2 separate regions of the Homo sapiens genome follow, and region 1 is linked to region 2. Evidence: fine-mapped expression QTL. A gene starts in region 2. The other region holds a variant in brackets. All regions are shown on one strand. Distances are from middle to middle. Region 1 overlaps TREML4 (triggering receptor expressed on myeloid cells like 4). Region 2 holds the start of TREM1 (triggering receptor expressed on myeloid cells 1).

Region 1 (5,382 bases), 49 kb after region 2:
CACGCCTGGCTAATTTTTTTTGCATTTTTAGTAGAGACGGGGTTTCACCATGTTAGCCAGGATGGTCTCGATCTCCTGACCTTGTGATCTGCCTGCCTCAGCCTCCCAAAGTGCTGGGATTACAAGCGTGAGCCACCGCACCCGGCCACATATGCTGTTTTCATTGTTAAATAAACTCACTGATGTGAATGGCTATCTTTGTGATATAGTATCTCTATATTTGGATGGTTTATGGCAAACTCATCAACTCTATTTACCTCTGGGGCTTCCTTAGGCAGTGAAATCTGCAGTAATTAACTGATCCTCAAAAAAAAGGGGTGGGAAGGGAATAAAAGATGAGAATACAAGAAAAATTACCAAATGCTATAAAAAGATAACAAATAGAACAAATTTCTTATAAAGAAATAAATTGAATAATCTATTACAGAGAAAGCAGAACCAGTGGGAAAACAATGATTTCAATAAGCATAGCAGATATTCTCAGAGCAATAAGGAACAATATTAGAAGCATAAAACAGAAGCAAGCAATAATGAAGAAGAAAAAATTAGAAATATTGATTAAGAAAATGATCATTGCTGAAAGAAAACTCTGAATGCAATGACTAGCAGAAGAATGAGTAGGTAAGGGAAAGAGTCAAGGAGCACTTCCTAAAGGCATTAGGAAGGAATAAAGTGATAGAAAGTGTAAGGGAAACATTAAGAGGTATGGAGGATAGAAACAAATGTCAATATCTCCTCAAAGAAGTCCTCAAAGGAGAAAAAGGAGTAAATGGAGTAGAAGAACTTCTTGAAAAAATAATACCAAGGATTTTTCCGAATTAAACAAATATGTAAGACATCAGACTGAATGTGTTCAGAGAGTTCCAAATAGAATGTATAATCAAGCTTTGGCTTCCTGCTCCCTCCCTCTTTACTCATTTTGTCGCCGCCGGGCTTCCCAACCACCTCTTGACTCTTCTCCCACTTTTCCGCTCGCCTGCGCCCCCGCGGGAGCCCGGGACCTCTTCGTGGAGGTCTGCCGCTGCAGCACCGCGGGCTGTTGGGGCAGCCAGGCGCCACTGCTGGCCTCTAGGGTCATACCACCCTGAAAGTGCCCGAGGCACGCCCCAGGCAGGGTCGGCCTGGTTAGTACTTGGATGGGATTCCGCCTGGGAATACCGGGTGATATAGGCTTTTGGCTTCCTGCTCCCTCCCTCTTTCCCCCTTTTGTCGCCGGGCTTCCCAACCACCCCCTGACTCTTTTCCCCCTCTTTCGCCCAAAAAGAAAAAAAAAAAAAAAAAAGGAAAAAATGGATAATTACCCCACATTACACCCATTATAATACAAATTTCAAAAAGAAAATTATAAAATGTTCCAGAGATAAAATTGGTCAGTAGAGATGAATAACTATCAGATTATTATCAGACATTTCCATAGCAACACTATGAAGGTAAGAAAACAATAAGAAATGTTCAAAATTTTAAAGAAAGCTACATTTTTTAGATGTTAACTTATGACACAGAATTTACCACCTGCTTGAAAATTGTGGTTAAGGGAATTATGACAATTTTGAGGCCAAGGATGTTAAGATAAAATATTTAAAAGTTATAGCTAAATGCTAAGCTCTTAGCATCTGATTAAGGAAGACTTATTTTTATTTAGTCCATTTTTATCCCACTATCAATGTTCTTTAAGTGAAGCTCAATATTTCCATACGACAAGTCAACTTTTCCCAACCTACTGCAGTTGTAAAAGTTCAATAAGAAAGAACTGGGTTCAGCCACATACGACTGAAAACCAAATAGCAGTGGCTTCAAGACACAAGTGTTTAATTTTAGGTACCATTTTAATTATGAAAATTTCCAAGCATACACAAAAGTAGAGATAATCATATATCTAGCCCCATGTAGCATCACTCAGCTACGTTTATTCTTGCCTTCCATTTTTTTTTTAATTGGCAATACCATTCCATAGGTTGTGCTGTGTACTTCACATAGACTCAGAGAAAACACATAATCGCTAGTGTCTAGATTCTTGGTTCAGGCAACACAAGCTGGCAGTATTAATTAGATGTCTGAGATCCCACAACCCAGCTGATGCCACCTGTGTATAAGTCCTAAAGGAAGTCTCACATGATTCCACAAGAGAACGTGAAGGAGGGTATTCATCACAGCATCATTTATGATATAGAAAAGTGAAGGCAAAAAAGCACATGCACCCTGGGTTCGGAATGATGCACTGTGGGATATGTACGCAATGGAATAAGCACTGAAAAGAAGTGGGCTGTGTATATGTGCCCAGCAAGGAGTAAGACAAGCATATGAAAAAGGTCTATCACAATTTCTTTTATGTAAGTGAAAACATAGTCACAGAAAAAAAAATACTGGATGTTTTACAAGAATACATTCAAATTTAAAGTTACATACCAAATGCATTAGAGTAGTTGCCTCGGAGAGGAAGGCAAGTGGACATAGGGAATGAGGATTAAAAAAATAAATAAACAAAGCAAAAGCGATGCCTCTCACAGATAGGTGATGATCATGTGGCAGGAGCTGAGATATACACGAAGAGACTTTTGTTTGATGTCCCATCCCCAAAAGAGCAAAAGAACATGGAGCTCTCTTTATGGTGGTCTTTTACAGGGCTGGCATTCAGCTGCTATGCACTGGTACCTCAAATCTGTTGCTCATGGTGGACCCCCATTCTGAGTGGTGAATCCCAGTCTCACTAGATGTTAGTTGGAAAATGACTGTACCTATTCTTGCTTCATAAATATGTGCTCCTCTTCTGTTCCCTAAAACATTTATCTTTCACCCACCATCATTTATTGTTAGTTCAACTTGATTTTCTCTTTTAGGCTGTGAATCTTCTCACATGTTAAGTAAACAGAATTTGGGCCCCAGATTATCAGATTCCATTTACGGATGAATGTTCTGGGTCCTGTTTTGGGCCACTGAGT[C/T]GCCTGCTCATGTCATTTTAACGCATCTAATTTTTTCTTTTACTTCTAGATCTTCCTCAGCTTCCAGTCTGCTGATTACAGCCTTTCTTAGTTTCAATTTTATCATTTATTTTTAAGTCATTTCTCTCTCATTTAGGATATCTGGGGTGGGACGGGAGGAAGGTGAGGGGATACAACTGCTGTCTTGCTCAGCTGCCCCTGACACATTTCAGTTCAGAGGTTGAATTTAATTAAGCACAAGAGGAAATTCATAGGACTCTAGGGCAGACCACAGGCAACAAACAGGGGAAATGTGAGGGATCCTGGAGACCTGCTGAGGTGGGGCTCAGAGAACGACAGAGTGCTGGAGAGGAGCCTGGGCACAGCTGAAGATGCTGAGCTGGGCATTGACCCGGATGCAGAAACCCCCACCCCAGGTCTTCCCAATGGCGAAAGTCAGGGCAGGGGCAGTAGATCTAAGGGGGCTCAGTGCAGGGGTGAGGGGTCACCACCGGGGAGTTCAGGGGCTGAAAGTTCTCTCCAATAGGCTTAGCGCTAGCCTTTCCTCACAAGGAGGTGGGGAGCAATACTTAGGCCAGCTCCCAATAGCTGGGCAGGGGAAGAACTGGGATTCATCCAGGATCCATGTTGTGGCTCATGCACCCAAGGGTCCTGGGACAAGGCTGTGCTGGGACAATCAGAAACCTCGTCACTGCTGTCCTGAGATGGGGCAAGAGGGGGAAAGTCATGAATGGAAGTGATGCTTTTCTGATCCTTTGTCTCACCCTGTCCCTGTTACCTGTTACTCCTCTTCCCGCCCCTCCCCCGCCTTCTCCCTGTCACCTGCTTCCTTCCCTGCCCCTTCCTGTCTCCTAAACCTTCTACCCAGGCACTCTCAGCTTTGTCCTCCTGGTCTTTTTCCTCTCAGGACAGAGACAGAGGCAGAGCCCTGGGATGGGACTCCCAGAAAGCCTCTGTCTCTTTCTAAGGTCTGTGTCTGCAGGAAGGCAGAGATTGCAAGGAAACACACTTTTAAATTGTTCCCAGCTGTCATTTTTCCTGCCTCTGTGACCTGGCTGCTTCTTCCTAGCCATCTTTCTAGGAACAGAATCTGGCCCCAGCTCCATTGCCCCCAGGTGAAATCCAGGCCCCCTCACCTGTGGCACCTGCAGATCAGGAGCACTAACAGGACTCACAACATCAGGCCCTTGGCCAGGAGGAGTCCACATAGCACCAAGACCAGGAATCTGGGGCCACCTGAGCCAAGGCAGGCAGGGGCTCTTGATTTCCTGCAGGGAAGAAGGAGAAAGGAGGATGGACTTGGGCCAGGATGTCACCACCTCCTGCGGTGTCCCTAAGCCAGGCAGGCCCCTTGTAGCTGGAGCTGTTTGCGTAAGGGCCCACCCTGAACGATGACAGAGGGGTGTGGGGCAGGAGCCACAGAGGTCTCTGGGACTGAGAGGGGACCTAGTCAGAAGGAACCTCAAAGTCTTGAACGGAGGAAAAAGCTGGCCAGGGGAAGAACAAGGGATTGGAGTTCAGGGAAGGGGAGGGATAGAGCTGGGGGAGCAGGAATTCTCCCTAACCAGGTCAGGTCGGATGGGACCATCCGACCTTAGGAATCAGAGCCCAGTGCATCTTCAAGACCAGCCAAGATATCACATCTGAGGAAATGAGGCCTAGAGACTGCACAGGACCTGACCAGACCCTTAGGAGTGGTGACAGCACAGACCTAGACCTCCTGTCTGTTGGTCCCAGGGGTCCTCCCTCATCCCCTCTGTGTAGCCCCCACTCCTGGCCTGCCTAGCTCTGATCTAGGACTACCCTGTCCCAGCAAATCTGCTTTTCTCTTGTGGCCTTGGTAACTTTCTGCCTCAGTATTACATAATATATGATAAAGTCAGTGAGCTCTTTTTATTTTCACTTTTTCATGGTTGACTTAGCTACTCATGTATCTTCCTTTTTCATATAATTTTAGAGTAAATTTTTCAAGTTCTTTACAAAAGTAAAGAAGTTGTGTTTGGGATTACATTTAAAGACTTTTTAATTTGGGAGAAATTGACATATTTACAATGTTATTGCCTCTTCCAAAGTCATGGATTGTTTCTATTTATTCAGATCACCTGTCATTTTTTAGCATTTTATACTTTTCTCCAAACAGGTCTTGGTTAAATTAATTCTTTCTAGAAACTTTATAGACTTTGTGACTGTAATGAAAACGATCTTATTTTTCTAAATGATTATTCCTCATAGAAATCTATTTGTAATGTATGTCAGTTGATTTTGTATCTGGCAGCCTTGCTAAACTCTCTTGTGAGATCTAATAGTTTGTTGTTTCTCATTCTTTTTCTGGGTAGATGATCCCATCAATTGCAAGTCATGACAGTTTTTCCTCTTCTTGTCTAATCTTCTTTCATGTAACCTGTTTTCCTTTCCTTCAAGCATTGATCAGAATCTCTAATAT
Region 2 (5,382 bases):
ATTCTGAAACTCGCTTTGTCTTTGCTGGCTGGTTCCCTGCTGGACTCTCGATAGGGGCATTAGAGGGAGATTGGGAGGCTGGAGGAGGAAGACAGGACATGCTCACTGATTCCTATTTCATTCTCTTTCATTGTGAGTAGCCTCAGTGATGCTTTTCACGGGCAACAGTGACTGGTTCCAGTTTGCAGTTTTCCCCACTCTCAGAAGTAGTCTCATTGGGCCTCCTCAGAGATATCAGCACCAGGGTCACACTATCCTCAGAGATCTGTGTTCCAGTTCCATGTGGGCCCCTCCTCTGAGCCAGAAAAGAAGATATTTTATATGCAATCTCATTGTTAAAAAATGTTACACATATATTCTAGCTAGGTTAGATTAACCAATCTTTATTAAGGAAGAAACTGCTAATTTACCCCATAGTGAAGATCGAGACCTACTGACTTGGGGCAGTGACTTATTGAAGACAAAACAAAACAGAATAATATTGGTATTATTTCATTAATTGTATCAATGTTGAAACTGTATTGATTTCATAATAGCTCTGAAGATGAAGTTTGGCAAATATGGAAAGGTTCATGGTACCCAAAGACTAAATCTTCCTAGTGCTAGAGGCCACCCTATGAGCAAGCATGGAAATGGGACATGTGACCCAGCCTTAGTAAAATTAACAGGAACCATAGGTCACAAATGACAGTGCTCTTCTATGAGAAGCCTTAAGAAATAATATCTTGTTGGGAGCAGTAGCTTGAGAATTTAAAGAGACCCTAATAGTTAGGCAGGAATATCGTCCTGCCTATTCAGCCTGAAGAAGTTACTGATCGGGTCATTAAACTCCTCAGAAAAATAAAGTGGTAAGGATTAGAGAATGCTGCCATGTGCTGCACAAGGAAGTTTTGGTCCATGACAGACTGCATATATGGTGGAGGTCCCATAAGATTATAATGTCATAATACCGTATTGTTACTATGCCTCTTCTATGTTTAGATACACAAATACTTACTATTGTGTTACAAATGCCTACAGTATTGAGGACTGTAACATACTGTGCAGGCTTGCAGCCTAGGAATATGCTTTACTTTGATTTATGTTCAAGTATCATTCTCCCTTAGATTTTGTGAGGTTGAAAGGTATTTGTCTAAACTGGATGTGAATGGAGAGGGGGCCTCCGGAGAGCAAAGGGCCCTCTGTTCCCCTTCCTAATATTAATAGGCTATACCATACAGCCTAGGTGTACAGTAGGCTGTGCCATGTTAAGTTCGTGTAAGTGCACTCCATGATGTTCCTGCAACACAAAATCACCTAGCAACACATTTCTCAGAATGTATCTGTCATTAAGTGACACGTGACTATTTGCACTGTTGACCTCAAGTACACAAATAGATCAGACAAGTGGAGAAAGACCTCATTCTACTTCATTCTAATTTAAATGCAGGTGCTGTCCGTAGTTAGGAAAATGTGAAGGAGCAATCAGCCTCCAGTGATATTCAAGTCTAATTAAAAATTCTTCTTGGACTGTTTAGTTCAAAGCTCCCTCTTAATCTTCCAGGAGCTTAATCCTCCACACAAAGTATATGAAGACACAAAAATGTAGAAAGTATGTGAAATAGCTATTATTTAAGTGTGGAATATTAATTTTGTTGTAAGGAGGGGATTTATTCACTGAAATAAACTTTATTAATTTGACTCATCGCCACAGAAGTCACGTAGGCTCCTCTCTGAGTCAGAAAATGTCAAGAGCTTTCTGTCTATTTTTCCTCTTTAGGGACTGCTTGAGTACAGCAAAAGGAGGGGCCAGCAGATTTCAGTTCAAGCATGTTTGAAGCCTGTTTTCCGACATTATTTGTAGAACAAAAAATAAACATAGTAAAATCTCCACTACAAATGATCTCTATAAAGTGTAATAACATGATTTAAGTTTATGTATTATTTTCTATATTTTATAAATTGCTGCATTGAACAGCTTTAATAAAAAAAATTAAAGTTAGCCTTGAAAATTTTTTTGGTTGTTGTTTGTTTTAATTTACAGACATGATAGTACCTTTTAGCTGTTCCTATACTTGAGTAGCAATCAATTTGGGTGTAAAATATTAGGGTCATAATGTTCTTTATACCTCATCCCACTCTCTCATGGTATTTGTTACTCAGAGAAGAAATCTGAGTCCTGATTATTTCAATTCCTTTGAAGAAACCAAGTTATTTTTTTGTTTATTTAGCAGTAGGAATCTTTTTATTTAAATTTAAAAATTTTCACCTGGAAACTTCCTATTCTAGGTCTCACTTTGTGAATTTTTTCCTTGCCCATGTTGAACTCTCAACCTCCAATTTTAGATTTCTTCTCAGACCTGGAAAGCATATTTTTTAAGATAAAATTTTTAATCTTGCTTGTGATCCACCATTCCATTTTATGCTTTAAGGACATCTCTGATTTGTAGATTGGAATTCTGTGATTTGTCCTCCCTTAAATTTCTGAGCTCTTCTAAATGTCTTTATTCATTTCACATTTGGGAATATTTCTGAAGTGAATCCTCTCCATTATTGATTTGATTTTCACACTGTCAAATCTGTCTTTTCTTGCTTCTAGTACAAAACCTGCTGGATTTTTTCTTCTTGCTTCAGCGTCTTGAACCAAGTTTCCTTTTTAAATCTAAGTCTGTTCTTGTTGGGTGGTGGCAGTGTCCTCTCAAATTGTTTCTGGGGTCCCTACACCCCCGTGAGCTCCCAGGCCATGTCTGTGGCAATGCTGAAGGACAAATGCAGGGTGTGGCCCTCCTGGTGATGAAGAGGAGGTGCACCCCAGGTCACCAGAAGCCAAGAGAACCCACGGGGCTGAGCAGGGCAGGATGAAGCAACATGTTCTCACAAAAACCCTGAAGATGAGATACGATTGTCGCAGCCTCTCCCTATGTGGGCCTGACTCTCTTCACTACACTAAACTGGATGTGAATGGAGAGGGGGCCTCTGGAGAGCAAAGGGCCCTCTGTTCCCCTTCCTAATATGAATGCCTTACTTTGATTTACATTCAAGTATCATTCTCCCTTAGATTTTGTAAGGTTGAAAGGTAATTGTCATTATTACCACAGAAAGGAAAACTGGAGTTCAAAGAAACTTAACTGAGAAGTGAGTCTTGGTCTCTGTATTATTGTGTTGATGTCAGGAGTCAGAGCAACTGGTGATGAAACAGAACCCAAACTCAGTGACTCCCAGGAATGGCCTCATATCCTGTTGTGCAACTTTCCGAAGCCTCTAGGTCATTGTGGTGCCTTGTAGCTGTCCCGGGAGCCCTCAGCAGCAGTTGGAGCTGGTGCACAGGAAGGATGAGGAAGACCAGGCTCTGGGGGCTGCTGTGGATGCTCTTTGTCTCAGGTAAGACAAGGAAGAGGACTGAGCAGGGGAGGCGTTTGGTCCAGGATCTCGGGGAGCCCTTTTCTGTTGAAGCTTCAGAGCACAGGGCCATCCAAGATAGAGCCAACCAGTAGTTATGGCAGACCGTGCTGCTCTACCCAGAATTGGGAGAACATGCAGTGTCTGCACACAAAAGTAAAAGAAGGAGAGAGTCAGGGAAAAAAGATGTCTGTGCATGTCGATGTTGTTAGAGACATGCAAAGCCTAGTATGGGAATAATGATAGAGTAGATCTCATCATGGCATGATCTACAATAAGTTTATTTGATGTTGAAATTTTTTTCTTATATTCCATCATGATGTGTTTGATGTTGACAATCTGTTAAACCCAAAAGACAGAATTGATTTAACAAATATTTCCCAGGGGTCTACTATGGGACAGCAAATATACTACTGCTGAGGACACAGACGTGACCAGAAGAGGCTGGTGCTCATTTTGGTGGAGGTGATCATCCCAGCTCTCCATGGCACGCTGGGGTTGGAGGGCACAGTTGCTGAGGCTCAGCAGAGCCGGCGCATGCCCCAGCTCTTTCTTGTGTCTCCTCTTACGATCCGCACAGCTCACATCTGCACCCAAACCAGAAGCATGCGGGCTTTATTCACTCCTCCTCCTAATCCTTATGAATAACAGGAGGAAAGTGTCAATATGAGTTAAAAGCGAGGCTTGCCTTGGGAAGGCATGAAAAATCAGGGAGAGGTATCCTCCTGGGCTCTCTACTTTGAGCAAAGTCATGGACAACTGCCTTGAAGAGCCTGTGCTCAGACATTGCTCTGGGTCTTCTTGGAGCTGGGGTGATAATCTAGATGGGCAGAAGGGAGTTAGCTCCTCATGGACAAGTGCATTTCCTTGTGTTTGATTCATGTTTTTCTGAAGGAGAACTGGGAGATGGCAGAGGGCTGAAGGTTATGTACCTGTGTGAGAGAAAACCAGTGGTATATATTTCATTGTGCCCTGTGGGGATAGGTTAGGGGTTAACCTCAATGCTCCTTGCAACTGGATACTTATTCACACTTGGGCCAGGACTTCTCTAATCCCTATCAGACTGTGTTGGACCATGTAGCTCAGTGCTTTAGGTGGAACCAGAGTCCTTGGGTTTGAATCCTGGCTCTAGTACTTAACTATGGTGAGACTTTGGGCAAATCACTTAATCTGTCTGTGCCTCAGTTTCCTTATCTATAAAATGGGGAGAATAATGGTGTCAACTTTTTACTTTATAAAGATTAAATAAGATAGTCTTTAAAAACCCTTAGCACATAATACTTAATAGGTAGTATTTGCTACCCTTTTAATTAACATATTCAAAGGAATTCCCTTCTTGCAATTGTGCACAGACAGCTCAGCAGCCTTCATTTCTTATTGTCTCCTTCCTTCTGTGAGAGACAGGCAAGTTTGCAAACTCAGTCACCTGTAACTCCCACCTTCCCTGGGGAGCTGGCAAATAAAAGAGATTTATCTGTAACATTAACTTCAGAGGTTAGGGCTTCAGTGGTGGCAACTTGAGGATGGAGTCTGTGTGTCTTCCAAAGAGCCCAGCACAGTGCCTATGATAGAGAAGTCTCCCAGCCAGTCTGATGAGTGAGTGAACAAATGAGGGAACCAGGCTTGGTTTCAGACAACACTCAGCCTCTGGTCAACAGTCTCTTGGAGGCACATTCCTGACTGGAGTGTGTGGGAGTTGCCCAAGAGGTCTGTTTCCGAGGTTTCCCTAGAAACTGGAGTCTGCTCCCAGAAGAACTGGCTTTCAAGACTGATTTCACCTTTAAACTCCTTGTGAGTCCCTGAGTTGAGTCTTCCTAAGGTCAGGCAGATCTGTTGGCCTATCCTGGGGTGGGCATGCCAGGGGGCTCCATGAAAGGGTAAGCACTTGTCATTTTTCACCAGGCCTGCAAGGACCTAAGTGTGTGGTATTAATAACAGCAGTACTAGTGTTACCGTGACCCACACAGTAGACCCAGCAGCACTGTCTAGCCTGTTATTTGGTGC

What was found. PIP is the estimated chance that this variant, and not a neighbour inherited with it, causes the effect. A credible set is the group of variants that fine-mapping cannot tell apart.
Region 1: its variant is the best candidate, but not a certain one, in a credible set for the expression of TREM1 in whole blood (TOPMed, PIP 0.67).

What each region holds. Positions count from the first base shown.
Region 1 is chr6:41,235,311-41,240,692 of GRCh38, reverse strand. TREML4 (triggering receptor expressed on myeloid cells like 4) reads right to left here. Exons shown (of 6, transcript NM_198153.3): 5 at 4,076-4,207; 6 at 1,811-3,638. The coding sequence ends at 4,111. It also overlaps the pseudogene RNA5SP207. Among named protein-coding and RNA genes, the nearest start is that of TREML4, 9.7 kb to the right of the region's middle. RefSeq lists enhancers at 496-1,030, 1,031-1,567. The variant C/T (reference allele first, on the strand shown) is at 2,940.
Region 2 is chr6:41,284,585-41,289,966 of GRCh38, reverse strand. TREM1 (triggering receptor expressed on myeloid cells 1) reads left to right here and starts at 3,285. Exons shown (of 4, transcript NM_018643.5): 1 at 3,285-3,360. The coding sequence starts at 3,312. RefSeq lists a silencer at 1,211-1,300.